Linked DNA regions of Homo sapiens: region 2 is linked to region 1. Evidence: fine-mapped expression QTL. A gene starts in region 1. The other region holds a variant in brackets. All regions are shown on one strand. Distances are between the middles of the regions. Region 1 holds the start of BSDC1 (BSD domain containing 1). Region 2 holds the start of FAM229A (family with sequence similarity 229 member A).

What was found. PIP is the estimated chance that this variant, and not a neighbour inherited with it, causes the effect.
Region 2: its variant is the best candidate, but not a certain one, in a credible set for the expression of BSDC1 in blood mononuclear cells (TOPMed, PIP 0.69).

What each region holds. Positions count from the first base shown.
Region 1 is chr1:32,386,595-32,401,419 of GRCh38, reverse strand. It overlaps BSDC1 (BSD domain containing 1), which reads left to right and starts at 6,979. Exons shown (of 11, transcript NM_018045.8): 1 at 6,979-7,016; 2 at 7,280-7,340; 3 at 14,525-14,641. The coding sequence starts at 7,006. RefSeq lists enhancers at 5,151-5,846, 6,594-6,673, 6,545-7,240, 6,964-7,253, 7,241-7,938 and 1 more.
Region 2 is chr1:32,359,451-32,374,275 of GRCh38, reverse strand. It overlaps FAM229A (family with sequence similarity 229 member A), which reads left to right and starts at 11,791. Exons shown (of 3, transcript NM_001167676.2): 1 at 11,791-12,318; 2 at 12,400-12,546; 3 at 12,741-13,006. The coding sequence starts at 12,185. The coding sequence ends at 12,843. TSSK3 (testis specific serine kinase 3) reads right to left here and starts at 11,737. Exons shown (of 2, transcript NM_052841.4): 1 at 11,430-11,737; 2 at 9,964-10,681. The coding sequence starts at 11,574. The coding sequence ends at 10,020. It overlaps BSDC1 (BSD domain containing 1), which reads left to right. Exons shown (of 11, transcript NM_018045.8): 10 at 5,726-5,829; 11 at 7,622-9,643. The coding sequence ends at 7,654. LOC124903933 (a long non-coding RNA gene) reads right to left here. Exons shown (of 3, transcript XR_007065642.1): 3 at 12,948-14,825. RefSeq lists silencers at 11,860-12,059, 12,210-12,509. The variant C/T (reference allele first, on the strand shown) is at 8,771.

The sequences.
Region 1 (14,825 bases):
CTGAGACTACAGGCGTGAGCCACCACACCCGGCCAAAATTCCTGAAATGTTAACAATCAGCTCTAGAGGGCTGAACTAGAACCAGTCCATGGGCTTTTAGGCATTCCCTGTGCTGCCTGCATCAGTAACTTAGGCATTTTGGTCTTACACTGGGTTCTACAAATTACGCAGCCAGTCCTCCTGCCAACTCTATGCTGGAATCTGCACGCCAAACCGAGGGCGGGCTTGGGCCTTGGAAATTTCTGAAAGGCTTGAGTCACCTCCCAGGATTATCCCAGGCCTAGCAGCCTTCCACGGAGGAACCCCACCCTGTCCAGAGGAGCCAGAAGGCCTCTCCTAGGAGCCGGGGAGATAGGGAGCCGGGGAGCCCGGGAGCCAGCTTCCCGTGAAGAATGAGTCCACAGCACCATCTGGTGGCACCTGGGTGTCAGGGCTCCTTGGGAGCAAAAGCCAGGATCCTGGGATAAGAATCACCTGCCAATTCTAATGGGGTGGGTAGGGGGAGTAGGAAAAAAATCATCTGCCAAAAGGGGTCCAGCAGTGTCAGAGGGGGGATTTGAGTCAAAGGAGGGTCTGAGGGTGTGGGATTTACCTGCATTCATACTTTGCCTAAGAGCTGCAGGAGACTGTAGAGGCCCCAAGGACAGTGAAAAAACTGAATTTCAGAGAGAAAAAGTGACAACTGCCCATAAACCAGTATTAAAATCTAGCTCTGCTGACTCCCAAACCAGTGTTCTTTCAACATACTGTTTAACTCAACAGATGTCCATTAGCCCTCTACCAGCGCCTAGCATTGTATGAGGCTCTGAGGACAGGGGTAAGGAGGTAAGACAATCATAATCCCTACATGAGGACTTTATGCCTTGCAATGTGCTAGGTGTTTTATTTATTTTCTTTAGTCATTACAACAACCAGAATTAGTATCCCAATGTTAAGGATGAAGACATTGGCCGGGCACAGTGGTTTATGCCTGTAATCCCAATACTTTGGAAAGCCAAAGCAGGTGGATCGCTAGATCCTAGGGGTTCGTAGACCAGCCTAGGCAACATAGCAAGACTCCATCTCTACAAAAAAAAAAAAAATTAAATTAGGCATGGTGGCACATGCCTGTGGTCCCAGCTACTCAGGAGGCTGAGGCAGGAGGATCACTTGAGCCTAGAAGGCTGAGGCTGCAGTGAGCCATGATCATGCTAGTGCAGTCCAGCTGGGGTGACAGAGTGAGACCTGCCTCAAAAAAAAAAAAAAAAAAAGGATGAATATGTTTGATGCCAGAGGTTATGGCAGTGAAAGGAGCCAACGGTCAAGGTACTGGGGTGAACAGATAAGGAAGACCAAAGAAACCCAAGCAAAGGGTCCCACTGAATCCACAGTCACTAGGGACATCATGGGCGAGCACTCTGCTGGGCCTGGGGGTGAGGAATGAGACAAGGTGAAGATAACGAAGGACAGGATGCCTGCAGCTATCATCTGGGTGGGGAGGCAGGACATAAGGTTGGAAGAAGTTAAGACTAGCATGAAATGCACAGAAGCTTGATTTTATTAGACAGCCTTGGGTTCAAATCCGAGTTCTGCCATTTCCTAGCTGTGTTACCTTGAGAAAGTCACCCCATATCTCAGAATCTTAGCTTTTTCACTTTTATTTAAAAAAAAATAATAGAGGCCGGGCACAGTGGCTCATGCCTGTAATCCCAGCACTTTGGGAGGCTGAGGCAGGCGGATCACCTGAGGTCAGCAGTTCAAGACCAGCCAGGCCAACATGGCGAAACCCTGTCTCTACTAAAAATACAAAAATTAGCTGGGTGTGGTGGTGCACGCCTGTAATCCCAGCTACTCAGGAGGTTGAGGCAGGAGAATCGCTTGAACCTGGGAGGCTGAGGTCGCAGTAAGCCAAGATTGCACCACCGCACTCCAGCCTGGGCGACACAGTGAAACTGTCTCAAAATAATAATAATAATAATAGAGATAGGGTGCCATTATGTTGCCCATACTGGTCTCAAACTTCTGGGCTCAAGCAATCCTTCCATCTCAGCCTCCCAAAATGCTGGGATTACATGAGTCACCGTGCCTGGTCACCTTCTTCATTTATAAAATGTAGATTAAAAATAGTTCCCACCTCATTGAGCTTTTGGGAAGGTACACTGTATAAAGTGCTCACCCCAATGGCACCGTTAGATCTGTTAACAGTAGCATTCAATCATTTGATCACATCATCTTCACAACACAAATCATTTCCTTATTCCAAACCTTTGGTGACTCTCCTCTGTCCATGAATTTTAAGTCCTGCATTCAAGGCTCTCAAGAATCGAGATGTTAATGACCTTTACAGCCTCACGTCCATCCTCTCTTTTCCTTTTTCTTTTTAGCTATTCCAGATTGCTCTAAATTAGTCCTGTCTTTGTCCTCACTCTCCTTGCATTTATTCTTTCATTCACTGAACAAATATTGAGTGTCTATTATGTACCAAACACTGTTGTAGGTGCTAGCCGTAGACAAGTGAACAAGACAGACAAAAATCCTGCCTTCATTGAGGTTGCATTTCTAGTCTGAAGGAGGCAAACAATTTTTTAAACAAAGTATAATATACAATATGTCAGAGAAGAGAAATGGGGGTGCTTGTTATGCAACTTGTGATTTTAAATAATGTGGTCAGGGTGAGTAAGAAGATTATATTCAAGTAAAGATCTGAATGAGGTGAAAGTTAGAAGCACATAAATATCTGGAGGTAAGTGCAGTCTAAACAAAAGGAACAGCAAGTTGAAAGGCCCCAAGTCAGGAGAGTCCCGGGAATTTTCAGGGAATATCAAAGTAGCCAATGTGTCTGGAGCAGAGTGACTAAGGGGGCCAGTAATGTGAGGTCAGATCAACTATACGGGGCCTTAAAGGAGACTGTGAGGACTTATTGGCTTTTTCTCTGAGTGAAATAAGAGGACATTGCAGAACTTTGGGCAGAGGAAGGCTGTAATCTGGCATGTATATACATATACATATATATATATATACACACACACACACACATGTTTTTCTTTGTTTTAAAGACAAGGTCTCTCCATTGCACAGGCAGTAATGTAGTGGCATGGTCACAGCTCACTGCAGCCTCAACCTCAAAAAATTAGCCAGGGCTGGGTATGGTGGCTCATACCTGTAATCCTGGCACTTTGGGAGGACGAGGTGGGTGGATCGCCCAAGGTCAGGAGTTCAAGACCAGCCTGACTAACATGGTGAAAACCTGTCTCCACTAAAAATACAAAAATTAGCAGAGCATGGTGGTGGGCACCTGTAATCCCAGCTACTTGGGAGGCTGAGGCAGGAGAATCGCTTGAACCTGGGAGGTGGAGGTTGCAGTGAGCCAAGATTGCTTGTCACTCCAGCTTGGGTGACGAGAAAGAAACTCTGTCTCAAAAAAAAAAAAATTAGCTGGGCGTGGTGGCATGCGCCTGTAGTTTCAGCTACTAGGGAGGCTAAGGCAGGAGAACTGCTTGAACCCGGGAGGCAGAGGTTGCAGTGAGCTGGGATCGTGCCATTGCACTCCAGCCTGGGTGACAAGAGCAAAACTCCATCTCAAAACAAACAAGCAAACAAACAAAAAACCACCAAATATCTGTTTGAGTACTTGCCTTCTATTCTTTTGGGTATATACTCAGAAGTGGAAGTGCTGGATCATATGGTAATTCTGTTTAATTTTTTTGAGGAAATGGCATATTGTATTCCATACCAGTTGCATTCCCAGTGACGTATGTCTTTTAAAAGATTACTTTCAGGCAAATGAAGACTAGACTTAAGGAAGGCAAGAGTGGATGCAGAAATATTTGTTAAGAGGCTCTTGTAATTAACCATGAGATTGATTATGGTAGCTTGTATCTACATAATAACAGTGGAGGTGGTGAGAAGTCACTAGATTCTGGTTTTGTTTGAAAGGCAGAGCCAACTGGATTTGCTGATGGGATTAGTTTGGGAGTATGAAAGAAAGTGAGAAAGCAAGGATGACTCCTAGGTTTTTGGCTCGAGCAACTGGAATAATGAGGTTCCATTTACAAATGTGGGAAAGTTTGCAGGAAGATGAGGTGGATAAATCAAGAGTTTGTTTTGGGACATGTTAAAAATAATACACCTATTACACATGCAAATAGACAAAATGAACCTGATGTTCAGAGAAAATGTATGGGTTGGAGAGGAAATTTGAGAGCCATCAGCATATACATGGCATTTAAAAGTATGAGATTAGTGAGATGGCTCACACCTGTAATCTCAGCACTTTGGGAAGCCAAGGTGGGTGGATCACTAGAGGCCAGGAGTTTGAGACCAGCCTGGGCAACATAGTGAAGCACTGCTAAAGAAAAATTAAAAGTAAGGCAACACAGGGAGACCTCATCTCTATTTAAAAAAATAATAATAGCTGGGCTTGATGGTGCATGCCTGTAGTCCCAGCTACTCAGGAGACTGAGGCAGGAGGATTGCTTGAGTTCAGGAAGTCAAGGCTGCAGTGAGCCATGATCGTGCCACTGCACTCCAGCCTGGGCAACTGATATGGTTTGGCTCTGTGTTCCCACCCAAATCTCATCTTGTAGCTCCATAATTCCCACGTGTTGTAGAAGGGACCTGGTGAGAGATGACTGAATCATGGTGGGGGCGGGTTTTTCCCGTGCTTTTCTCATAATAGTGAATGGTTCTCATGAGATCTGATGGTTTTAAAATCGGGAGTTTCCCTGCACAAGCTCTCTTCTCTTGTCTGCCACCATGTGAGATGTGCCTTTCACCTTCCTCCATCATTGTGAGGTCTCCCTGGCCATGTGGAACTGTGAGTCCAGTAAAACTCTTTCTTTTGTAAATTGCCCAGTCTCAGGTATGTCTTTATTAGCAGTGTGAAAATGGACTAATATGGCGACAGAGTAAGATCCTGTCTTAAAAATAAAATAAAATGGGCCAGGAGCAGTGGCTCACGCCTGTACTCCCAGCACTTTCAGAGGCCGAGGTGGGTGGATCACCTGAGGCCAGGAGTTCAAGACCAGCCCGGCCAACATGGTGAAACCCCATCTCTACTAAAAATACAAAATTAGCTGGGTGTGGTGGTGGGTGCCTGTAATCCCAGCTATTCTGGACGCTGAGGCAGGAGAGTCATTTGAACCCAGGAGGCAGAGGTTGCAGTGAGCCAAGATCATGCCACTGCACTCCAGCCTGGGCAATAGAGTGAGACTCCATCTTAAAAAATAATAATAAATAAAATCATGAGACTTTATGAGAATATCTGGGGAATGACTATAAACATCAAAAAGGAGGAGGACACCAAGGGCTGAGCCTTCTCCCAGGGAATATCCCATTCCAGCAACAAGAAGGCGGTGAGAAAACAGCAAAGAATACTGAGATGCCAATGAACGGGGAAGAAAGTCAAGAGGGCATGATGTCCTGGAAGCCAAATGAAGAAAGTGGTCAACTGTGTCAAATAAGATGCGGATGTAAAACAAGAACTGAAAAGTGGCCATTCCTCTTGGCGACCTTAAGAAAGTTATGTCAGGCTGGGTGCAGTGGTTCATGCCTGTAATCCCAGCACTTTGGGAGGCTGAGGAGGGCAGATCACCTGAAGTCAGGAGTTCGAGACAAGCCTGGCCAACATAGTGAAACCCCATCTCTACTAAACATACAAAAATTAGTCGGGCATGGTGGTGCACAACTGTAATCCCAGATACTCGGGAGGCTGAGGCAGGAGAATCGCTTGAACCCGGGAGGCAGAGGTTGCAGCGAGCTGAGATTGCACCACTACACTCCAGCCCGGGCAACAGAGCAAGACTCTGACTCAAAATAAATAAATAAATAAAATAGATGTTTCCGTCTTCCACAGGGAGGACCAAAAATAAATAAATAAATAAAATAGATGTGTCCGTCTTCCACAGGGAGGACGTGGGATGGTGGCGGAGCTGGCTGCAGCAGAGCTACAAATAAATATAAAATAAATAAAATTAAATAAAATTAAATAAATAAAAGAAAGTTATTTCAAAGGATTGTCTGAGAGGCAAAAACCTAACTGCAGTGAGTTCAAGAGAGAATGGGAGGAGAGGGGAGTTGCAGACTGTGAGTAGGCAACGCTTTTGCTGTAAAGGGGAGTAGGGAAACGGTGAGGGATATAGAGAGGGCTGGTTTTTGTTTGCCTTTGAGATGGGAGAAACAGCAGTACGGATGATGACAAGGATAAATGCAGTCATCAGAGGGAAAAGAGATGAAGGGGGGATTACTAGATCTATGTCCTTAAGCAAACAAGAGGCGATGGGATCTACCGCACACGTGGAGGGGCTGACCTTAATTAAAGTCCAAAGTATGTGGGCTGTGGAATCTCCCTTCCAATCGCAGTAGAACTCAATCCAGGCGGTCTCCGGATTTCTCCAGACCACCTCCACCTGGCGTTGTTCTGAGCTGGGCCACCGAAAGTTGAGATTACTGAATGTGTGTGTCTCCCATTAACCCGTAAGCCCTCCAAAGGCTGCATCTAAGTCGCCTCTGAATTATTCACATTCCTCCAAACTCTGGGCCACAGCCCCGCAATATGGGCTTATTGAATTAGCCCAAAGAGACACAAAGCAGCCTCTACGCAGCTGGTTTCACAAAGGGGGGCGGTCCTAACCCTGCGCTCTGGGATCCTGACGTTCGAGCTATCTCTCCTCCTCCCCTCTGCTCCCAGCTCTCCGCAGTCCAGCTTGTCGGCTGATCATCGTCCATAGAGGCCACCGTACCCGACGTTTGCGGACAGTGACAAAGAGTCAAGCTTGGTGGAGCCTGAGGACAGGACTGAATGACGATTGAACTGAGAGTTCAGGGGCGGAGTTTGAGGGCGAACTCGGGACAGAGACTGGATAGAGTTCAGGGAGGCGGGACCTAATGATGGCGCAGGGAGGGGATTGGGCTGAGGGCGGTGCCGGCGCGAGGATTGGGCCGAGCGCCTCGGGGGCGGTCCTTGAGGGGGCGGTGCCGTGTCGGAAGTCAAAGGTCAGTAAATAGTGGTGATGTCATGCAGGCAAGATGGCGGAAGGGTGAGCTTGTCGTTTTGCTCCTAGGCGTTGGGGCCTGAATTCTCCCAGGGTTGGGGTGCTGGGCGAGAGTCCCGGTGGGGAACGTGAGATCAGCGGGGGCGTGGACTGATCTGAAAGGGCAGAGTGGAGTCGCATTGTGAGGGGGTGGGCAAGCGGTCTGCGAAGCCTCGGCCCGCAGGGTACATCTGAGCGGGGAACAAACCGGATCCTTGGGCGGGCAGGAATCGCACCGCGGTGCTGCCAGATGTGTCTGTCTTCCACAGGGAGGACGTGGGATGGTGGCGGAGCTGGCTGCAGCAGAGCTACCAAGCAGTCAAAGAGAAGGTAAGCCGGGCCCGTGCCCTTCTTCCCTCAGCAGGGCCCTGCGCCGCCTCAATGCAACCTGGTCCAACCAGCCCCGCCCAACTTTTGCGGGCGCTAAGTCTCAAGGATGAGGCTGACCTGGGCCTTTCTTTTAGCCTCTACCGGTCCACGGGAAGACAGACCTCGACGCAAACCAGTGTGATACTAGCCACAGTGAAATAAAGATGGTTTTAAAGGCTGGAGTTAACGAACGTTTTGTAGGAATCCATAGGAAGGAGCAATTTATTCCAGCTCAGGAAATTCAGTTTCTTCGTGAAAGAGAGAGCATTTGATACAGGTCTTGAAGGAAAAGATTCTAGCAGTAAAAAAACTTACTCGTATAGTCATTCAAATATTAGAGTATATGCGACAACCAGCACTCTGATAGGTCTTGAGGATACAGACTTCAGCCAAACAGATGTAATCCTGGGCCTTACAAAGCTCACAGTCTAGTGGAGAGACAGCCATTAACCGAGTAGCCAAACAAATAGTTGTTTAGTTACCGTTGTGGTAAGTTCTGTGAAAGGAAAGTACAGGGGCACCTTGTCTGTTCTGGTTAGTCAGTAACTCACCAGGGAAGGCCCCTGTGGAGAAGGAACCTCATCAAGGGCAACCCTGCCTAGACAGGATGAAAAGCAAGAACCCAAGCCAGAGATGAGCATGAGCCATACACACTGGTGCCTGATGAGTTCTAAGTAGGGGCTATGCAACGGGCAGTAGAGAGAGAGAGATTAATCACCAGAGAGTGGAAGGCCTTCTTGCTGAACAATCTCTGTGGGATGAGTGATATTTGGCTGTGCCAGTGGGTAATTTGCCAATGTGTATTCCTGTTTCATTTCATGCTTATTTGTCAAAATCAGCCCAACTGAATTGTGGGAAAAGTTGATTACTATTTACCTCAAGCAATTGGGATGAGTCCTGCTTCAGGGCCAACTCCAGGAAGCTTCTGACCTCACCTAAATAAGTCCTCTACTCTGGGAGTATTTTTGTTTTGTTTTGAGACAGAGTCTCACTCTGTCACCTAGGCTGGAGTGCACAGGTGCGGTCTCAGCTCGCTGCAACCTCTGCCTCCCAGATTGAAGTGATTCTTGTGCCTCAGCCTCCCGAGTAGCTGGGATTACAGGCATGTGCCACTACTCCTGGCTAATTTTTGTATTTTTAGTAGAGACAGGGTTTCACCATGTTGGCCAGACTGGTCTCGAACTCCTCACCTCAGGTGAGCCACCTGCCTCAGCTTCCCAAAGTGCTGGGATTATAGGCGTGAGCCACCACACCCAGACATCTGGGAGCGTTTTTATTCCTCCCTTATCCTGGGTACTCCTGGACAGCCTCTCAGCAATAGCCCAGCAAATCTGAGAATGCCCTGAGCTGTTTATGTTGTTGATGAGGACTGAGAGGCTTGCACCCTAACATTTGATAGAAGAGACCCGATAGTAGCATATTTCCTGTTGGGTAATTTCCTGGCAGGAAAGTCTGACATTCATTCAGCAGATGTTGCATGAGGGCCTCCTGTGTTTGTCTCAAGGTTGGTCTTATCATAACTTATGAAAAATAGATAGTTGGCCAACCTTCCGTCTTCATTCTTGGAATTCCCAGTTAAAAGCTGGGGTGGGGGTGGAGGTGGGAGTTGTTTATGCCTTTTTGGAAAGAAAAGACGTAATTTCCCTTTTTTTACTTTCTTACTCTTATATGTACTTGGGCAAGTGTTTTTTGTTTTTTGTTTGTTTGTTTTTGAGACCAAGTCTGGCTCTGTTACCAGGCTGGAGTGCAGTGGCTCAGTCTCAGCTCTGCAACTTCCGCCTCCTGAGTTCAAGTGATTCTCCTGCCTCGGCCTCCTGAGTAGCTGGGATTACAGGCATGTGCCACCACGCCCAGCTAATTTTTCTATTTTCAATAGAGACAGGGTTTCACCATGTTGGCCAGGCTGGTCTCAAACTCCTGACCTCAGGTGATCCGCCTGCCTCGGCCTCCCAAAGTGCTAGGATTACAGGTGTGAGCCACCACGCCTGGCCTCTTGGGCAAGTTTTTAACCTCTCTAGGCCTCAGTTCCTCATCTATAAAATGGGAATACTAACAATACCTACTTGATGAGATTGTGGTGATGGTTAAATGTTAATATATGTAAAACACTAAGAACAGTACCTAGCATACAGTAAGTGCTATATAAGCATTAGCTGTTATTAAGTGCTGAGGCTGATGGGAAAACCTCTTAGATACCACCCCCAGTTCGTTTTTCCTTCCATTTTTTTTCTTGGTCTTTTGGTGCTTTCCTATCTGTATGTCCCATTCTGGCTCCATCTGGACCACTCACTTCTCAGCACTCCTTAGAACACATTGCCCTGAAGACCACAGCTATGAGATGGTGCTATCATCTGCTTTCCTCTGCTCCTTACCTCCTCCTGTCCTGTCTTCCTGTGTGTTGTCAAGGGCAATATGACTGACACAAATACGTGTGCATACACGTTGATAGAGAAAGGCATATCATTGCTCTACATACTTACCAGAAAGAAGAAATTAAAAAGAGAAAGGCACCAAATGCTTTTTGGTTCCATCACAGATTCCCCAACCTCATCTGGGCCCACATACTCTTCAGTCTCCAATTTGCTTCTCCTCCCCTTAACTTCAGAAACTTTCCCAAAACCTAACTCTTCCCTGGGGTCCCCTATTCAGCCGCTTTATCCCTTTCACTTCCAGGAGACAACCTCATCTACTTTTTGAAACTTCAGGTGAACAAACAGGATCTTTAACTCTCTCCCCACCCTCAAAGCCACCACCTATAAACTTATCTTTACTCAGTCAGCTTTACCTACTGCTTGCCAAATCCAGTGGGTGGTTTTCAGCCCTTATCTTCCTGGACCATTCTGCTGCATTTGACGCTAGTGATCACTCCCTCTCTTGAAACGCTACTCTCTTGGCATTTGTGACATGATTCTTAAGTCTCCACATACTTCTCCAGACGTTGCTTTTGTAACTGTCTCATGAGTTCCTCTTCCTCTGCTTGCCCCCTACAGGTAGTGTCTGAGGACACTTGTCCTCAGCCCATTGCTCTGTCCACTTTCCAAACTCTTCCTGGGTCACCTTCTCCACTTTCCTGTTAGGGCGACTCTTAGACCTTTTGCCTGAACTTTAGTGTTGTGTTTTGCTTTGTTTTGAGATGGGCTCTCACTTTGTCACCCAAGCTGAAGTGCAGTGATGCAAACATGGTTCTCTGCAACCTCCACTTCCTGGATTCAAGCAATCCTCCCACCTCAGGCCCCCAAGTAGCTGGGACTATAGGCGTGTACCATCACGCCCAACTAATTTTTGTATTTTTTGTAGAGATGAGATCTCGCCATGTTGCCCAGGCTGGTCTCAAACCCCTAGGCTCAAGCAGTCTGCCCACCTTGGTCTCCCAAAGTGCTGGGACTACAGGCATGAGCCACCATGCCCGGCCAGCTTTAGTGTTTGAGGATAGCTATTGCTGGACAGCTATCCTAGACAGCCCACAGTCATCTCAAGTTCTGCGTGCCCAAAGTCATTGTTACCACCTTGTCTCTAGGACTGCTCCTCCTCCAGGATTTTCTCACTTAGCTGGCAGTACTGCATCTACGCAGTCACCTATTTTAGCAGCCTGTGGTGCTTCCATGATTCTTTTCTAGCCCTCAGTCAACATACCTGTTCAGTCACCAAATCCACCTTCTTCCATCTCCTGTATCTTGAACCAGTCTCATCCTCTCCATCTTTACTAGCATTGTCCTTACTCACATTTTTCTATTTTCTTTCCTGGATTATTGCAGCAGCCTCCTGACTGGTCTTCCTTCTTCCTCTTCTAATCTTCTCGCCTCTGGACCTTTCCTCCATTCCAGTCACTGGAGTAATTTAGTGAAAAGGCAAATCTCATGTCCCACCCACTTCAAACCTTTGGTGGCTCCCCATCATCCATAGGGCTGACCAGGCTCTCCCTGGTTGCCCTTGGCAACCTCTCCAGCTTTATCCCTCACCACTCTTGCTTCACATTTTATGTCCATCAGGACTGTAATGCTTGTAGACGTCACTAAACCCATGTCAACACTTCTTAGCTGACTCCTGTTCTTTTTTTTTTTTTTTTTTGAGACAGGGTCTCACTCTGTTACCCAGACTGGAGTGCAGTGGCATGATCACAGCCCACTGCAGCCTCAACCACCCAGGCTCAGGTGATTCTCCCACCTCAGCCTCCTGGGTAGCTGGGACTATAGGCGTGTACCACCACTTCTGGCTAATTTTTTGTATTTGTGTGTGTGTGTGTGTGTGTGTGTGTGGAGACGGTTTTGCCATAGTGTCCAAACTGGTCTCAAATTCCTGGGCTCAAGCAATCCTCCTGCCTCGGCTTCCCAAAGTGCTGGGATTACAGGCATCAGCCACTGCACCTGGCCCACATCAATACTTCTTAACCAACTCCTGTTCATTCTTTAAGGGCCCATTCCAGGCTTCTGGTCACCACATCTTCCCAACCTCCCCATAGTACAGCAGCTACTGCTCTGCCCTTGCACATCAGCACTATCATGGGACCATTTTCCCCAGTAGACTGTGACCTGCTTGAGGGCAACGTATGTTCATGTTTGTCTGCTCAGAGCTCACAGTCTAGCGGGAAGACAACTGTTTAGTCACACAAGTGGTTACATAATTGAAATTTCAATGGTCCATGTAAATTTAACAAGCAAACATTTTTTGAGTACCTACTGTATGCTCTGTGTCAGATACTGGGGAACCATCAGGGAACAAAACACATAGGACCTGTGTTCACACAACTCACAGTTTATCCAGGAAGACAGACATTGAACAGGTCATCTGAAGTCTAAACTATGTTCAGTGTTAGAAAAGAGATAAATTGGGAGGCCAAGGTGGGCGAATCATGAGGTCAGGAGATCGAGACCATCCTGGCTAACACAGTGAAATCCCGTCTCTACTAAAAATACAAAAAATTAGCTGGGCTTGGTGGCGGGCGCCTGTAGTCCCAGCTACTCGGGAGGCTGAGGCAGGAGAATGGCATGAACCCGGGAGGCAGAGGTTGCAGTGAGCAGAGATCGCGCCACTGCACTCCAGCCTGGGTAACAGAGCGAAACTCCATCTCAAAAAAAAAAAAAAAGAAAAAAAAGAAGAAGAGATAAAGCAGGGAGAGCCAGCTGAGCCTGAAGAGGCAGCAGGAAGCCCCTCTAGGGAAATGAAGCATAGACGTTGAGGATGAACAGGAGTTTTCCAGATAAGAGGGTTCCTTCATCGTGTTTACAGACTTGGTTTTTTTGAAGAGTTAGAACTCTGTATCAGGGAGAGGAAACAATGTGTTCAGATACTCTGAGGCAGGACAGATGCTAGGGCATTTTAGAAACTTGAGGAAGGCCAGCTGGAGCTCAGTGAACGGCACAGTGGTAGGGGATACCAGTCTGCCAGAGGCCAAGTTATATAGGCTTTGTAAGTAAAGGTGGATTTTCAATTTGCTCTTAGGATAGTGTGTAAACTTAAAGAGTGTAAAGCAGCACGGTCTGCCCTGACAGACAAAGCACCCACTGGGTGTCATAAGGAGAATGAAGTAAAGGTGGCTGAGACAACCTGGGAGGAATCCAGGTGAAAGAATAAGTTGGCCTGGACTAAGATGGTGGCAGTGTGGATAGAAAGAGTGAATCGGTAAATGACCCAGGGCACAATTTCATGGTGCTGTGAAATATTTTTTAAAATTTTAATAAAAGTAAATAAGTAAATGACCTCCTCCACCCCCAATTAAGGAGTCCTGAGTTGATATGGAGGCATGATTACCACCCCTAGAGAAGCCTGTAGCTGATAGACTGTGCCATTCAGAAACTTCCCAAGCTAATGAAAAGTGGGCAGGCCCTTCCCAGAAGAACAAACCACAGGAGCGCTCAAAAACATGCTTTAAAAAATGCAGGTGATTATCCCCGTGTAAGATGAAAGGGCTTGCAGGGGGAGTGGCCACTGAGATACTCCAGGAAGCATCCTAGAGTTGGTGAGTCTGAAGCAAGACAGGGCAAGACCTAGAAGTGAGCTGAGGGTCTGCTTTCTCAAGTGAGGTCTGGGTGCAGGCTGAGAAACAGATTGGTTTAGCAGGAGCAAATATGCATTCTGCCCAAAGGAGCTTTGTATATGAATAGAACCTCGGGATGGTAGAACCAAGAAGGCCTCCAAGAGAATCTGATCTAGTCTTTCTCTTGACCGCTTCCTCCTTTGTTGAATGTAAAAAATCACATGCCTTTTTACTGATATTAAATTGTTAAGAATTACTCATAAAATAGCTTTCCAAGCTATTGCTGTTACTAATACAATTAGTAATTACTAATTCTTAAACCCGAAGGCAAATAACTTCACATACTGCCTCATATTTCAACTCAATTTCTCTGTAACAAAAAAAGTAAAAATAGAAACACTTTCCTTTGATAAAAAAAATCACATGCCTTAGGCTGGGTGGCTCACGCCTATAATCTCAACACTTTGGGAGGCCAAGGTGGGCGGATCACCTGAGGTTGGGAGTTCGAGACCAGCCTGACCAACATGGAGAAACCCCATCTCTACTAAAAATACAAAATTAGCTGGGCGTGGTGGCGCATGCCTGTAATCCCAGCTACTCGGGAGGCTGAGGCACGAAAATCGCTTGAACCCGGGAGGCGGAGGTTGCGGTGAGCCGAGATCGTGCCATTGCACTCCAGCCTGGGCAACGAGAGCGAGACTCTGTCTCAAGAAAAAAAAAAAAAAATCACATACCTTTTTTTCATGTTATTTGAAACTTGGTATGAATATCGTGATTTAAAGCATATCAAAGCAATTCATCAAAGTCAGTATTGTTTTCAGACTATGCCCCCTCTTTTCCTGTTTGCTCTTGAGAATCTCTGATCTAGATCACCTCATTTTACAGGAGAAAACTGAGAACTAGATGAGACTTACTCATGGCCACATAGCTTGCGAGTGCCTAGGCTGAGACTCAGTCCTCATGCTCAGAGTAGCAGGAAATTCCCCTGCACTCTCTGCTGTCAGGTAATCCCAGATCATGGAATTGGGACAAATGAGCATTGTTTCTGAGCCGAAGCTCCCCTGCCGCTGGAGATTTCCATTTGTCTGTCTGGTACTGAAGAAACACAGGGAACAGGAACAAGGGGTGGTGGGGCCAGCTGGCCCTGGCATCCCTCTCTGTCTTCCCACAGTCCTCTGAAGCCTTGGAGTTTATGAAGCGGGACCTGACGGAGTTTACCCAGGTGGTGCAGCATGACACGGCCTGTACCATCGCAGCCACGGCCAGCGTGGTCAAGGAGAAGCTGGCTGTGAGTACCACCCAAACCCTCCCAAGTAACTGCCCCTCGCAACCTGTCCTGTCCTGGGCTCCCAACCTTTCTACCATTAAGTGATTATTTTTCCATATGGGGAAAAATATGTGGATTACTTTTCCTCCCATTTTGAAAGAATTGTGTCTGGCAACCAAACAAGCTGCATATTTTAAGTAATAAT
Region 2 (14,825 bases), 27 kb after region 1:
AGCCCTGCTTTGGGGAAATGAAAATAGAGGTAACATTCTCTGAGCACTTTCTCTGTGTCTAGATCTGTGCTAAGCACAGATGCATATGCACAGTAATATGCATATTACTCAATCCTTACAAAAGCCCTGTGAGATCTGTGTACTTTTTCTCATATTTCTAGTGGTAGGAACCTGAGATCAGTGACCCACCCAGTAAATATTTCAGTGTGAAATAGTCCTGTAGAAGAGGGAGGAGTAGGTGGTGGGCCTGACAGGTGTAATAGGGTTGCTGGGTGGATGGTCCCAGGGCCCACTGAGGTTGTGATTGTAGGTTTTAAGTGAGACCATCAACATGTTGTATTTTTGTTCAGCCATATTCAGTTGCTCAGGTGCAGGAACAGAGCAGATGGGGAGTTGGATCTAATTAGGTTCAAGTTTAGCCAGGTAAAATCAGTTGATGAAAAGAAGAAAGTCCGCTGGGCACAGTGGCTCACACCTATAATTGCAGTACTTAAGGGAGGCTGAGGCAGGTGGATCGCTTGAGCCCAGGAGTTTAAGACCAGCCCTGGCATTGTGATGAAACCCCATCTCTACAGAAAATACAAAAAATTAGCCAGATGTGGTGGCACGTGCCTGTAGTCCCAGCTACTCGGGAGGCTGAGGTGGGAGGATCACCTGAGTGGGGAGGTTGAGGCTGCAGTGAGTTGAGATTGCTGCACTGCCCTCCAGCCTGGGTGACAGAGCTGAGACCCTGTCTCAAAAAAATAGGAAAGAAAAGAAAGTATATGCAAGAAGTGATAAGAATGATGCCTCATGGAATCTGAGCTGAGTACGGGAGAGAATGAGGGATAGTGAAACAGTTGGAGGGTTACAAATTATAGGTTTCATTTGGAATTGGGCTACAAAGGGTGATCAGAAAAAATCAGTAGTGGTTGGAGACTGGATGGAATTGAAATTACAGGAGAGGTAAACATAAGCTCTTAACTACTCTGCTATGCTGCCTCTGCTGCCCTCAGGGCCTGTGAAAGGAGAGGCTGAGGATGTGCTATAGAAGACTCACAAGAAACAACCGTAGTCAGGTGGGAGGAAGCCAGAGTCTTGGACTAGGCTGGAACAGTGGGAACAGAGTAGAAGAAATAAAAAGAAGAATGGGGGCTTGGAGACAAAGTGACTCCTTTTTCCTGTTGGGCCCAAGTCCTAGGGTGACATAAGGCTTGGTCTCTGGGTATAGCAGAGTCTCTTGGGGTACCCTAGCCAAAGGGTTTTACTGGTTCCCAGGGTGATCCCTGTCATCGCAGAGCTGCTTTCCACCTATGTTTTGTCACAGCATTCGTCTGTTCTGAGAGACTGGACTTCTTTCTGCAGAGAAGGGGAGGAGAGATTGGGGCAGGCCTGTGGCCTGGAAGGAGCCTGGAGGTTAAGACCTCACTTCATGACCGTGTGACCTAAGAGCAGTTTTGCCTCTATTTCTTAACTGGGGAAGCAGAGAGCCGATTAAACAGAATAAAATGAGCTGTGAGTGACAGCACTACAAAGTTAGCAATCACCCGAAAACTTCCATTTTCAAAACCAAACCAGTAGAACTCCATTCTGAAGTCTTAAATTGTAGCATAGGCCACCTCTCTGCCACATGCACATTGTAATGGAGATCTTAGTGCTCTCCTTGTGTGACAGGGTAGGACGGTGGAAGGAGGCAGATGGCAGAGAGAACCCAGCTTCACAGCTCCCTGCACCACCTGAAGCCTTCATTTCCTCATCCGTATACTGGGACTGTTAATACCCACCCAAGAGCTAGATGTGGAATATTCCAGAAATGTTAGTGGATACTCTGTTCTCTACCCCTGAAAGGTTCTGCCATAGCATTTAAGCCTGAAGAGACAGTTTCAAGTCCCTAGAGGGCAACCTGAGGTTAGGGAAAGCTGTCATGGCCACAACCAAAGCCCTGAAGTGAGGAAGCAGCGAAGAGTCTGGCTAACCCACAGGAAGCCTGTGGTGACAGCCAGATGAATGTCACCTAAGTGTCCTGAAGGCACAGAGGGATGTAGGTGCAGAGTCAGAAGAGCTGGGTCTTGGCTGCCCTGACTTCCTGAGGTACCGTGTACAGAATGACATAACTCTGAGACAAGGCCCTTAGAAGAAAGGCAGCACCATTCATTACATAGCCATGTGTATGTATGTAATAGGCACTTTACATTCATACCTCTAATTCTAACACCATTGTTTCTCAAACGGCAGGGCCAGGTCTACACAGAACACACAGGTACCTGCTTATAATGCAGCCTTCCCAGCCACCAGCTAGACCTGCTGAGTCTTAGTTGGGACTGGGGGTGGGCAGGGTAGGAGTCTGTATTTTAATACGCTTCTCCAGTGGTTCTTTGCAGAGGTTGCTTTTATCCATATTTTATAAATAGACTGAAGCCAACAATAATTTGCCCAAGACTACACAGTAAAGGAGTAGGTATTCAACCCAGGTCTGCCTGGCCCCAGAGACCATGCTCTGGCTAGAAGAGAGGATGATGCAGGATACCATAGAAGGAATGTGGGAGCGGGGCTGAGGGGTAGGTCTCAGCGCGGAGGCATCTGGTGAGGAGTAGGTCGGAGAAGAAGAAACGGAGATGTTTACTGGTCATGCCGTTGGAGGATCAGGGACCCACTCTTTTTAAAGGTACTTAAAAAAAAAGACTACAGGCTGGGTGCGGTGGCTCACGCTTGTAATCTCAGCACTTTGGGAAGCCGAGGCGGGCAGATCACGAGGTCAGGAGATCGAGACCATCCTGGCTAACACGGTGAAACCCCATCTCTACTAAAAATATAAAAAATTAGCCGGGCGTGGTGGCGGGCGCCTGTAGTCCCAGCTACTCAGGAGGCTGAGGCAGGAGAATGGTGTGAACCCAGGAGGCAGAGCTTGCAGTGAGCCGAGATTGTGCCACTGCACTCCAGCCTGGGCGAGAGTGAGACTCCATCTCAAATAAAAAAAAAAAAAAAAAAAAAAAGATTACAAAGTCGTATGTGTTCATTTTAGGAAAAAAATTAAGGAAAATCACCTCATGAACTCATCACCTAGAGATAACTTTGCTAGTGTATTTGGATATCTTGCTCATCTCTTCTGCATGTGTGCATGCATCTATGGGCACATTTTAAAGCTGGAATCTTACTGTACATGCTTTATTGAAAGGAACTATTTGTGTAGTTTACTTCTTAGTAATAACTTTTATATATATCTTTTTAATATTACCTGTAAGAAGTCATAGCCAAATATGAATGTTTAGAGCAATGATCATCAAATAGTACAGACAGGCATCAGAATCATCTAGAGCAGAGGGTGGTAAGCTTTTTCTGTATAGGACCAGACCATAAATATTTTAGGCTTTTTGGGCCATGCAGTCAAAATTACTCATCTCCGCTCTTGCAGCATGAAAGCAGCCATAGACAGTATGTAAACAAATGATGTGACATGGCTAGAATTTTTTTTTTTTTTTTTTTTTTTTTTTTTGAGACGGAGTCTCACTCTGTCACCCAGGCTGGAGTGCAATGGCGGGATCTTGGCTCACTGCAAGCTCTGCCTCCCGGGTTCAAGCGATTCTTCTGCCTCAGCCTCCCGAGTAGCTGGGACTAACAGGCGCTTGCCACCACCCCCAGCTAATTTTTTGTATTTTTAGTAGAGATGGGGTTTCACCACATTAGCCAGGGTGGTCTCGATCTTCTGACCTCGTGATCCACCTGTCTCGGCCTCCCAAAGTGCTGGGATTACAAGCGTGAGCCACCACGCCCGGCGACATGGCTAGATTTGATCCCTGGGCCATAGTTTGCCAACCCCTGGTTTACAGAAAGGGTCTGTGACTATTGAGTGCCAACTATGTGTTCTAAAAACTTGAAATACATAAGAGAACAAAACAAAAGATCCTGGCACTCACAGGGCTTATATTCTAACTCCTCTATTAATATACAATAAACATATTAAGTCTGATTATGTAATATGTTAGAAAGTGATCACTACAATGGGAAAAAGAACAATCCAGAGCCAGGCGCAGTGGCTCACGCCTATAATCCCAGTACTTTGGGAGGTCAAAGCAGGCGGATCACCTAAGGTCAGGAGTTTGAGACCAGCCTGGCCAACATAGTGAAACCCCGTTTCTACTAAAAATACAAAAATTATCCAGGCATGGTGGCATGCCCCTGTAATCTCAGCTACTCAGGAGGCTGAGGCAGGAGAATCACTTGAACCTGCGAGGCAGAGGTTGCAGTGAGCTAGGATCGCGCCACTGCACTCCAGCCTGGGCAACAGAGCGAGACTCCGTCTCAAAAAATAAATAAATAAGTAAAAATACAAAAATTAGCTGGATGTGGTACCAGGCAGGTGCCTGTAATCCCAGCTACTCAGGAGGCTGAGGCAAGAGAATCTCTTGAACCCAGGAGGCGGAGGTTGCAGGGAGCTGAGATCGTGCCACTGCACTCCAGCCTGGGTGACAGAGCGAGACTCTGTCTCAGAAAAAAAAGAACAACTAGAGCAGAGTGAGGGTGATGATGGGTTGCTCTTTAAACTAGGATGGTCAGTGTAGGCCACATCTAGAAGGTACGATTTGAGCAATGGCATGAAGGAGGTGAAAAGTTGGTCTTGTAGATATCTGAGGATACGAGTTCCAGGTGCAGGGAACAGCCCATGCAAAAGCCCTAAGTTGGGAATGCGCCTGGTATGTTTCTGGAGGAACAAGATTAGTGTGGGCAGAATGGAGTGAGGAAGAAGAGGTCTACTGTTTGGGGGTCCGAGGGGAGGTTTTTGTTTTCTTTAGAGACAGGGTTTTGCACTGTCAACAGGCTGGACTGCAGTGGCATGATCATAGCTCACTGCAGCCTTGAACTCCTGGGCTCAAGTGATCACCACACCTCAGCCTCCTGAGTAGCTGGGACTCCTTAGGTGTGTACTACCATGCCTGGCTAATTTTTAAATTTTTTTCTAGAGACAAGGTCTCAGTTCACTGTTGATTTCCTCTGGAAGATTTCTGTGACTCTCTTGGAGCCTCTGGGCCAAAGTGCTTCTCCGCTCTTTAGTAACCTGCCTTTTCCGAGGTAATAGTTTAAGGCTGTTTGGCATGGATGTGAAGTTCTTCTCCAGCCTAACCTCTAACAGCCTACAGTGTTCCACCATGTAACTCACTGTTTACTTGTCTAATTCCCTGTCAGTGGGCTTTCAGATTGTTTCTAGGTTTCCATCACTATGACAGCACTGCAGTGAACACTCTTTGCTAAATTTCTGACTGAATCCAAGATTTTTCCTTAGAATAGATTCTTAAAAGTGGGGGCCAGGTGCGGTGGCTCACACCTATAATCCCAGCACCTTGGGAGGCCGAGGTGGCCAGATCATTGAGGTCAGGAGTTTGAAACCAGCCTGGCCAACATGGTGAAACCCCGTCTCTACTAAAAATACAAAAATTAGCCAGGTGTGTGGGGCGTGCGCCTGTAGTCCCAGCTACTTGGGAGGCTGAGGCAGGAGAATCGCTTGAACCTGGGAAGCAGAGGTTGCAGTGGGCCGGGATCACACCACTGCACTCCAGCCTGGGTGACAGCAAGACTCCATCTAAGAAAACAAAAAAAAAAAGTACGATTGGTGCGCCAGAGTGAACACAAAATGTAAAGACTTGTGTATTTGTGAGACCCTTTTGAAGCATGCTATCTCCCCAGCTACACCCTCTTCAGGTGCCCCTTCCCTGCCTCCTCCTGCTTTTCACACTGTGGCTCGTGGTTCCAGGCTCAAGCACGGACATCAGTGAGGACTGGGAGAAAGACTTTGACTTGGACATGACTGAAGAGGAGGTGCAGATGGCACTTTCCAAAGTGGATGCCTCCGGGGAGGTGAGTGGGCCTGGTGGGTCAGAGGGAAGCGAGCCTAATGGTCCTGGGTGTGAGAGCTCTCCCCAGCCAGCCCAGCTGTCCCCTCAGGAGGGTCCCTGCTCCTGTCTGAGGTGACAGGTGGTGGGAAAGGAGCTGGAGCTTCCTGCTCAGACCCACAACATTGGTCATCAGCAGGCTGCACTTTTCCTCAGTTCCAGGGTGGATAGAGGGTCAAGTTCTTGACCTTAGCTCTGTATCAAAATTGCCTGAGAAACTGCTTAAGAAAACAGATGTCATGCTGAGCGCGGTGGCTCACACCTGTAATCCCAACACTTTGGGAGGCCAAGGTGGGAGGATTGCTTGAGGCGAGGAGTTCAAGACCAGCCTGGCCAATATAGTGAGACCCCATTTCTGTTTTTGAAAAAAAAAAAAAAAGGAAAAAAGAAAACAGACATCAAACCCTGCCTGACCTTCTGAGTTGTGGTCCTCAGGTATGAGGCCTGAGTATATACTTGGCCTTGGAGACAAAAGACCAGTGTGATCAAGGGCAAGGGCAAGTTACTTAACCTGAGCCCCTGGTTCCTCATCTAAAACATGGAATTGATCATTATAAGACCTGGCTATAAGCTGTAATGAGGTGATCCATGTAGACACCTTAGGGCTATTGCCTGAGACATGGTGACCAGCACTCAGGAGACATTAGTGATAAACCCCACAAAACCCATTCCAGTTATTAAGCTCAAGGAGGCCTTAGTACTGTTATTCTTCACTACCTCTCAGAATCAAAAGTGGCTCATTTAGATTGAGAGGCTGGAACAGTCCAAAGCTCTCCCAGCTAATAAGTGACAGGACTGAGGCTGCAACCCAGACATCTGATTCATGTCAGCGTTAGTTCCACTGTCACATAAGAACCACATGAGTCCTTCCATCATGTAACTTATGAGCCTGTTAGAAAGAGGTGGACAGATTAGAGAGACATGTGAAGGGCCTCCTTTTTCATGATGGGAAACTGAAGCCTTGGGGGAGTATTTTACCTACTCAGGAGTATTTTGCACTTGTGACTACCTCACTATACCCAGGACAGAGAAAGCCCATAGTGCCCTGTCAGGCCACAGGGGCTTGCTGGCTTTTTGTGTCTTTGCAGCCCCCTTTAAAACCTGACGTGCAGTACACGTGAGCATTCTAGAACCTGCTATACCAGGGCTTAGCCGACAGCAGGCCAAGAGTAGGAACAAAGCAAGAAAACGTTCCGTGGGGAGACTTGAGCTGGGAATTAGGGTGTTGGTGCCCCTAGTGAAGACCTAGTGGGCATCTGTAGGCCACTGCCACCTCTGCTTTTGGCCACAGTGCCACTCAGGCAGTGGCCTCCATTCACCCAAAGACTAAGTAACTTGCCCTTGATTACACTGGTCTTTTGTGTCCAGGGCCAAGTATCTGCTCAGGCCTCCTGAGTTCTCTGCTTCTCAGAGCCATGGCATTATCTGCTCAGCAGGAGGCAAGTTCTCCTTAAAGGACTGAGGCTGACTTGGTTCCTGTAGGCAGCCATCACCTTGTGGTGTCTGGTGTTGGTTGGGGGAAGTGTTTCCTTTAGGTCTGAGGTAATCAGAGCATCAGGCCCACCCCTCAGGCAGAGGGCAGCTCTGCCCCTCAGACACATTCCTTAAGACTAGGGGTTCACTCTCAGTGGGACCTCAGAGTATGGCCTGGGGTAGGGGATGGGAGGTGGCTCTGCTCAGCAAGTGGAGGTTAGGTCTGGGCCTGACTCAGGAGTAACTATGTGTTTGTGATTTCCATTACCCCCTCCCATTTGCAGCTGGAAGATGTAGAGTGGGAGGACTGGGAGTGAGGGAGCCAGAGGGAGCAGCTCCCCCACCCATGGCATCTCTCGCCTCCCTCGCTCGTCTCAGCCCAGCCCTGGAAGACTGAGAATGTTCCCCCAAATCTCCTCTGCCAACCAGAGCTCTGGGCACAGATTCTGGTGGCTCCCTGCTGGCCCTCTTGGGCCTCTGCTCACACCTGGGAAGGGGCTCTCTAAATCCCGGCCAGAAACTCTGACTTGTGCCAACAATAGGATGACCCAAGGGAGAGGAAACCTATCCTCCTCACCAGAAGAGCCTGTGTTTTTCTGCTGAACACCCACTGTTCCTGAGGACTCCTGCTGGGAAGTCCCAAGGGATAGTTCTAGCCCTTCTGCCTGTGTAGACAGAAGCTAAACCACCAGTCTCTCTCGGAGGAAGCTGAGACAACATACTCTGTCCATACATAAGCAGGCAGGGAGGGCCATGCCACCTACCCTTGGCTAAACAGGGACAGTGAACACATTTTGGTTCCTATCCCAGTGGGTAAGAGGCACTTATCTCTGGGAAATTTGCCTCTCTTGGGACTCTCCCCCTCCCAGGCATTTTCCATTCCTGGAAAGGCTCCTTTGGGGTTCAGAATCCAGAGACCAAACCCTGACCCACCTCCTTCCTTTCCTCCAGCCCACGCTGGTCTGTCCCCATGCCTTCCCAGGGCTTCTTCATGTCGGATGCACCCAAGTCCTTAGCCCAGCTGTGCCACCTGCAGGAGTTCGCTCTTGCGTTTCTTCCCCTCCCCAAGAAGGGAGGGGGCTACTTCAGGCCCTTCTGTGTGTTGCCTGGCAGGATACCTTGTCCAACCAGCTACCCACCTCAACTCCCCTGTAGTTTAGGACACAAAACAGCTACCAGCGGTACAGAGCGGTGATCAAAGCCGAGTACTTACAACTCTGGTAAGCCTAGCTTCTCCGCCTCAGCCCTTCTGCTTCTGGAAGGGCTATCCTGGGGGTGAACTTGAAACTCTCATCAGGCTTCTGCAAAAGCTCTTCTTCCTGAAGACAGACCCAGCCTTTGTGCTCTCACCCTCCACTCTGGTAAAGCTGCACCTCTGGGGGAATGAGGGGCTGCAGGAATCTCTGGAGAGCCTGGTGCTTCACGATGCTGCT[C/T]TGGTGATTCTTGTACCTAATCTGGTGTGCTCACCAATGAGTGAAAGGGATCGTGGGTCAGGGACACCGAGAGAGTGAGGTCACTTCCACTTCAAACCTTCAGTGAGGGGGTGGGATGGAGAGAATGCTGAATCTTTTTTTTGACGGGATGGGGTTTTTCTCTTTGTAATTATTTCTTTAGTTTAATTAACCTTTTGGTTGTTTGTGCAATATTATATATTTTAAATTATAATGCATCTCCCCAGAGTATTTTGTAGCTGGGAAAAGAAAAAAGGAAAAAAAGAAAAAAAGATTCTAACAGCTGTTAGTTTTATAATTAAAAAAGAAAGAAAAAAGAACTTTGTCCTGAACCTTTTACAGACTTGCCGTTAACAGCATTAAAGTGATTCACCCGAAGCTGAAAGGTGTCTGGGGGTCTGTTTTTGTCCCCTTGGCAGCTGCACTGGGCCAGGGCAGGACTGGCTTCCCACTTGGAGCCAGAGACAGGGTAGGGGGATAGCCTAGGTCCAGAGGACGTACCTTGTCCTCATCCCAGATTCAGCTTTGCCTTTGGGATGAGAAAGGGTCAGGGCTCGCAACAGGCCTCTCACTGGGACAAGGAGTCGGGAGGCCATCTCTGCACTCCCAGTGCCTCTGCTTTCCTTTGGAAAGGAAGTTGCAACAAGAATGGCTTCAGTTGCTCTTGGTCATTTTTATCCTCTCTTCCCCCTGTTTGTATATGATTCTTGGGTCTATTTTAATTAACTTTAGTATGAAAATCACTTGTCATGCCAGGCGCAGTGGCTCATGCCTGTAATCCCAACATTTTGGGAGGCCAAGGTGGGTGGATCACTAAGGTCAGGAGTTCCAGACCAGCCTGGCCAACATGGTGAAACCCCATCTCTACTAAAAATACAGAAATAGCCAGGCGTGGTGGGAGGTGCCTGTAATCCCAGCTACTGGGGAGGCTGAGGCAGGAGAATCGCTTGAACCTGGGAAGCAGAGTTGCAGTGAACTGGAATCGTGCCACTGCATTCCAGCCTGGGCGACAGAGCAAGACTCTTAAAAAAAAAAAAGGAAGTCTGAATGAGGCCCTTTGATTCCATGAAGATCTCTAAAAGGAAAGAGTAGTAGTAAGGCTGGGGTAGATGTAGGTAAGTTTTAGGATAAGTAAACTTAAAGCGTAAAATATATATCACCATTTTAGAAGCGGGTTTTTGGGTTTGCTTTCTCCCCCTACTTTATTGGAGAGCACTTGCCATTGCTTTTATCAAGTGCTTGCTAGCCATGGATGCCAACTAACTTCTTCAATTGAAGGCCGGAGGATCATATCGGGTTCCAGGAGCCTCTTGAGCAGGTCCTGGCAATCGGCCGAGATGCTCAGATGAGTGGGGAAGGACACCCCCTTCTGCTGCTGCCACAGCATCTTGGGGATGTCTGTGTCGTCAAAAGGTAGGCTGGCACAGAGCATGACATACAGGACCACACCCATGCTCCAGACATCACCTTTTTTGCTATCGTGGGGAATGCCCTGCAGCACCTCGGGGGCAGCATAGGCTGTACTGCCGCAGAAGGTCTGGCTCAGCTCCCGGTGTGACTTGGGCAACACCTTGGCAAAGCCAAAGTCAGTCAGCTTCAGGTTGAAGCCCTGCAACAAGGCGTTCTCACATTTGAGGTCCCGGTGGGCCACACCACAGCCATGGCAGTAGCGGATGGCCTCAACCATCTGACGGAAGAGGGCCTTGGCCCGGCTTTCAGGCAGTGGCCCCCCATTCAGCACGCAGTCAAAGACATCCCCTCCCTCAGCGAGCTCCATCACCAGGCAGATTTTCCCGTCGGCAGACTCCAGCATCTCATACACCTGGATGATGTTCTTGTGGTCCAGGGTACGGACGATTTGGAGCTCCCGAGGGAGGAATCTCTGGATAAACTCTGAGGAAGTAAGGGGAGGAGAGATGGGCTGGCAGATCAGAAAGGCCCACCTCCTCACACCTGTCTCCTGCCTTCCAACTTCTGCCCACCTTGTCTGGGTCTTATTTCTTGGCTTTCTTAATGGTCTTAAGTGTGTCTAGCTGCTTGGACATTGCAAAGAATGTTCACTTCTATTATTTTTGTCGTTAGTATATCATTCAAAAGAAGCACTCCCCACCAGCCTTGTGGACTGTTGTGAGCAGTCTGTGAGACTGGATATCAAGGTGCTTTAGGGACTTTTAGACAAAGCCACAGAATCACAAATTATAAGGCCTGATTTGTCCACAGGGTGGTGAGCCAGCTCCTCCCGCCACTGTCCCCTGACCCCACAATTCTTTCCATGAGCCCTGTCTTCCTTTTTCCCATCTCCACGGGCCTTGGCACCAGCCCCTGTTCTCTACCAGCCCTGGTTGTGGCCTCTGCCAGTCTCTGTTCCCCTGCCGGAAAGGAAAGCCTGGCTCAGGTTTTGCCTCTGAGGATCCTTCACCTCATGCCACTTTCATCTTGCATTCTGGGGGGGTGTAATGTTCCTGGACTCCCAGAACCCCTCTGTTCCCCACTGACCCACTCCAGAGCTGCCATCGGGCTTGCTTGGTTCCAGGCCAGCGGGAGCAGGGAATGATCGAATGATCGTTCTAACAAACAGGAGGAAGCACCCACCCACCTCAGCCAGTCCTCCCTCCTTCCCTCCAAAGGGGCCCCGGCTCACCTTCTGGCCCTCCCATCTTGTCTATAACTTTAATTGCCACTTTTCTTTGGTGTTTTTTGGAAAATGCTTCTTTGACTTTTGAGTAGGTCCCTTCCCCAATGGTCTTGCCCAGCTGGTACCCATTGGAGAGCAGAAAGTCCTCCATGCTGTCTAGCGCCGCCTTCCTATCACCCTCTCAGCTCATGCTGCCTCTGAGAGGCAGCTCTACTCCACCATCGCCCTTGGCCTGCTCCTTTTCTCCCCAAGGACTTCATCCGCAGCCGCCCCCAGCGTTAGAACATTCTCTGTCTGGACACAGCGGCGGGTGGTGGGGAGGGACAGGGCCAGACATTTTTAAACTCCGGTGCAATTGTGATGTAGATGCTGTGTGACCCTTGGCCAAAATGGGCAGTGCCCCTACCTGCCCTCACTACCACCACCAAACTCAGCCCGGATTAAGTCACCGCCGAGCCCGCCCCCGTGCCAGGCATTGAGTTGTAGTCCCGCCTGGGAGGGCGCTCCGCCGCGTCTGTGTGGACCGGGAATGCGCGGCTCCTCGGCGTGGACGCCGCCTCGCGGCGGGTTGCCCTGGCCTGCTGCGCCCCCCTCGGGTGTCCGGGGTCTGCGCGACCCCGTCTCCAGGCGCCATGGCCAGAGGCCTCCAGTCCCCGATTCTGGCCCGCGCTGAGTGCCAGGGGCGGCAGGGGGCACCGTTGGGGGTTCTCCAGTGGGAGGAACGTGCTCTGTGAGGTCAGCGCGCCGCGGCCCGGGTCACAATGCTGCCCTCCTCGACGCCCGGGCCCGGGCACGCCACAGAGACCTGCCCGGCTCCGCCTGGACCGGAGCGTTCTCCCGCGGCCAGGGCTCCGGCAGCTGCTTCTAGCCTGGGACCGGTCTCAACCGCCGGGAGGTGAGCGACGGCCCAGGGGGCGGGCGCGAGGCGGCGGCGCCCGGCGACCCGGGAGAGGCCTGACCGCCACTCCCCGCGCAGAGCGCCCCGGGGCTTGGACATGAGCGCCCAGGAGCCCCCGCAGGGTCGGAGATTCCCCATTGAGGCCGGAGACTCCCGTGGCCTTGCCGCCGCCCCCGAGTCCCAGGACAGCCCGGAGGCGGTAGCGACGGAGCACAACCCGGTCAGGTAAGGCCCGCGCCCCACCCCCGCCTCCGCCCGTCCCGCGGCCCCGCCCTCCGTCCCACTTGGCGCCCCCAGCAGTCAGGACCCCGCATCCACGTCCGGACCCCCGGGGACCCCAGGTGCACTCCCTGGGTGCGCCCCACAGGATGGGCCAAGCCCCTGCCTCAGCGGCCCCTGTCGCGCGTCAATTTCCCCAGGCCGCTTCGTCGCTGCCCTGGATGCCACTGCCTGACGCTGCTGCACGTGCCCATCGACGTCTACCTCGCCATGGGCGGGAGCCCCCGGGCCCGCGCCACGTGAGTGCGCCTGCTCCCTGCGGCTCCGCGGGAGCTGGGCGGGAACGAGGCCCCCAGCGGGCCACCACGCTGAGGTCGCATGCGCCGAGCACGAGACAATGATGCACATTTTAAAATAAAAGAATGATGCACATTTTAATAAAGCACAGCACAAACTGTTCTTTCCACTCCGGGCTGGCAGTGTATGTCTATCCGTCGGGCCCACCAGCTGCTCTGCCCAGTCCAATAACACTTTCCCTTCCGCAGCCTCCTCGTTTGGACCCAGCCTTAGGGGCCCGCCCTTCCGCCTTTCAACCTACGCCACTTCACTCCTCTCGTATCTTGCTGGTCCTGACCCCTCCTGGGCAGCCTTTCCCTTGGGCCCTGCCCTGGTCCATCTCTCTAACCCTCTGGTGATTCTCCGGTGAAATTCACATCACTGTGCTGGACCCTGGCAACCCACAGAAGCGGGGAACAGGAGGAAGAGGTGGACCGACAAGTAACATAGAATACAGCCATAGGCCACCCACACCAGGCTATCTATCTATCTTATCTATCTATCATCTATCTATCTATCTATCTATCTATCTATCTATCTATCTATCTATCTATGAGATGGAGTCTCGCTCTGTTTCCCAGGCTGGACTGCAGTGGCATGATCTCTGTTCACTGCAACCTCTGCCTCCCAGGTTCAAACAATTCTCCTGCCTCAGCCTCCCAAGTAGCTGGGACTACAGGCACCCGACCAGACCCATTTTAATCCTCTCGAGCGAGAAGTTCTGCGACAAAGTTCTGCGACTTGCTCTTTGTGGCCCTAGGTGCCTGGGACCTTCCTTATTGGAAGGGTTTGGAGCTGCCCCAGTCCATCCTGAGCCTTGGTTTCTCCCAGGACTGAAGTGATCATAAAAAGATTGGGGAAGAGGCCATTTGAAAAATGGTGGCTTGCCAGGCGCGGTGGCTCACGCCTGTAATCCCAGCACTTTGGGAGACCGAGGCAGGTGGATCACAAGGTCAGGAGTTCGAGACCAGCCTGGCCAACATGGCGAAACCCCGTCTCTACTAAAAATACAAAAATTAGCTGGGTGTGGTGGTACGCACCTGTAATCCCAGCCACTCGGGAGGCTGAGGCAGGAGAATTCCTTGAACCCAGGAGGCAGAGGTTGCAGTGAGCTGAGATCATGCCACTGCACTCCAGCCTGGGCAACAGAGCAAGACTCTATCCAAAAAAAAAAAAAAAAGAGAGAGAAAGAAAGACGTTGGTTTAACTTCCTATTTTACAGATGAGTGAACTGAGCCTTTGAGACTTACCCAAGGTCCCCCAATGAGAGTCTAGCACACTCCTCAGCATCCTGAGACCACATGACCTAAGATCTGCCCTCGGAGGGGCCCATGACAGGAAGCCTGCCTGGAGGTGCTAGTATTTAAGCTAAACAACTATTTCCTACTTTCCAATTTGGCTTTAATGAGCCCGTATATTCTACTTTCCAATTTTGTTACGGGGGGAGTGTAACCTAAAGGTCAGGTTCAGTCTCCTGTCCCCTGAGATCTAAGGACAATTGATTCAACACCCTCCTCTAATCCTCATAGGGTAGAGAAGTCCAAGCTTTCCCTAGAGCACCTTAAAATTCCACGTCACCCAAAAGGGATACCCTTCTCAGTTTCCACATAAAATGCTCTCCCAGGCAGTCCCCATGTAGGAGGCTTACTAAAAGGGCCTATTTCCTCACTGGTTTAAAAAAAAAAGGCATCAGCTGGTCTCTTTGGACTCTGCCAGCCCCCAAATAGTGAATCCTTCTCATTCTTCCTTTTTTTCCATCTCTCCCACTTCCTTCTCCTCTCTTCTCAACCCTCCTTTCCTTAAAAAAAAAAAAAAAATAGGCCAGGCATGGTGGCTCAGGCCTGTAATCCCAGCACTTTGGGAGGCTGAGGCAGGAGGATCACTTGAGCCCAGGAGTTCAAGACCAGCATGGAAAACAGCAAGATCCCATCTCTAAAAACAAAACAAAA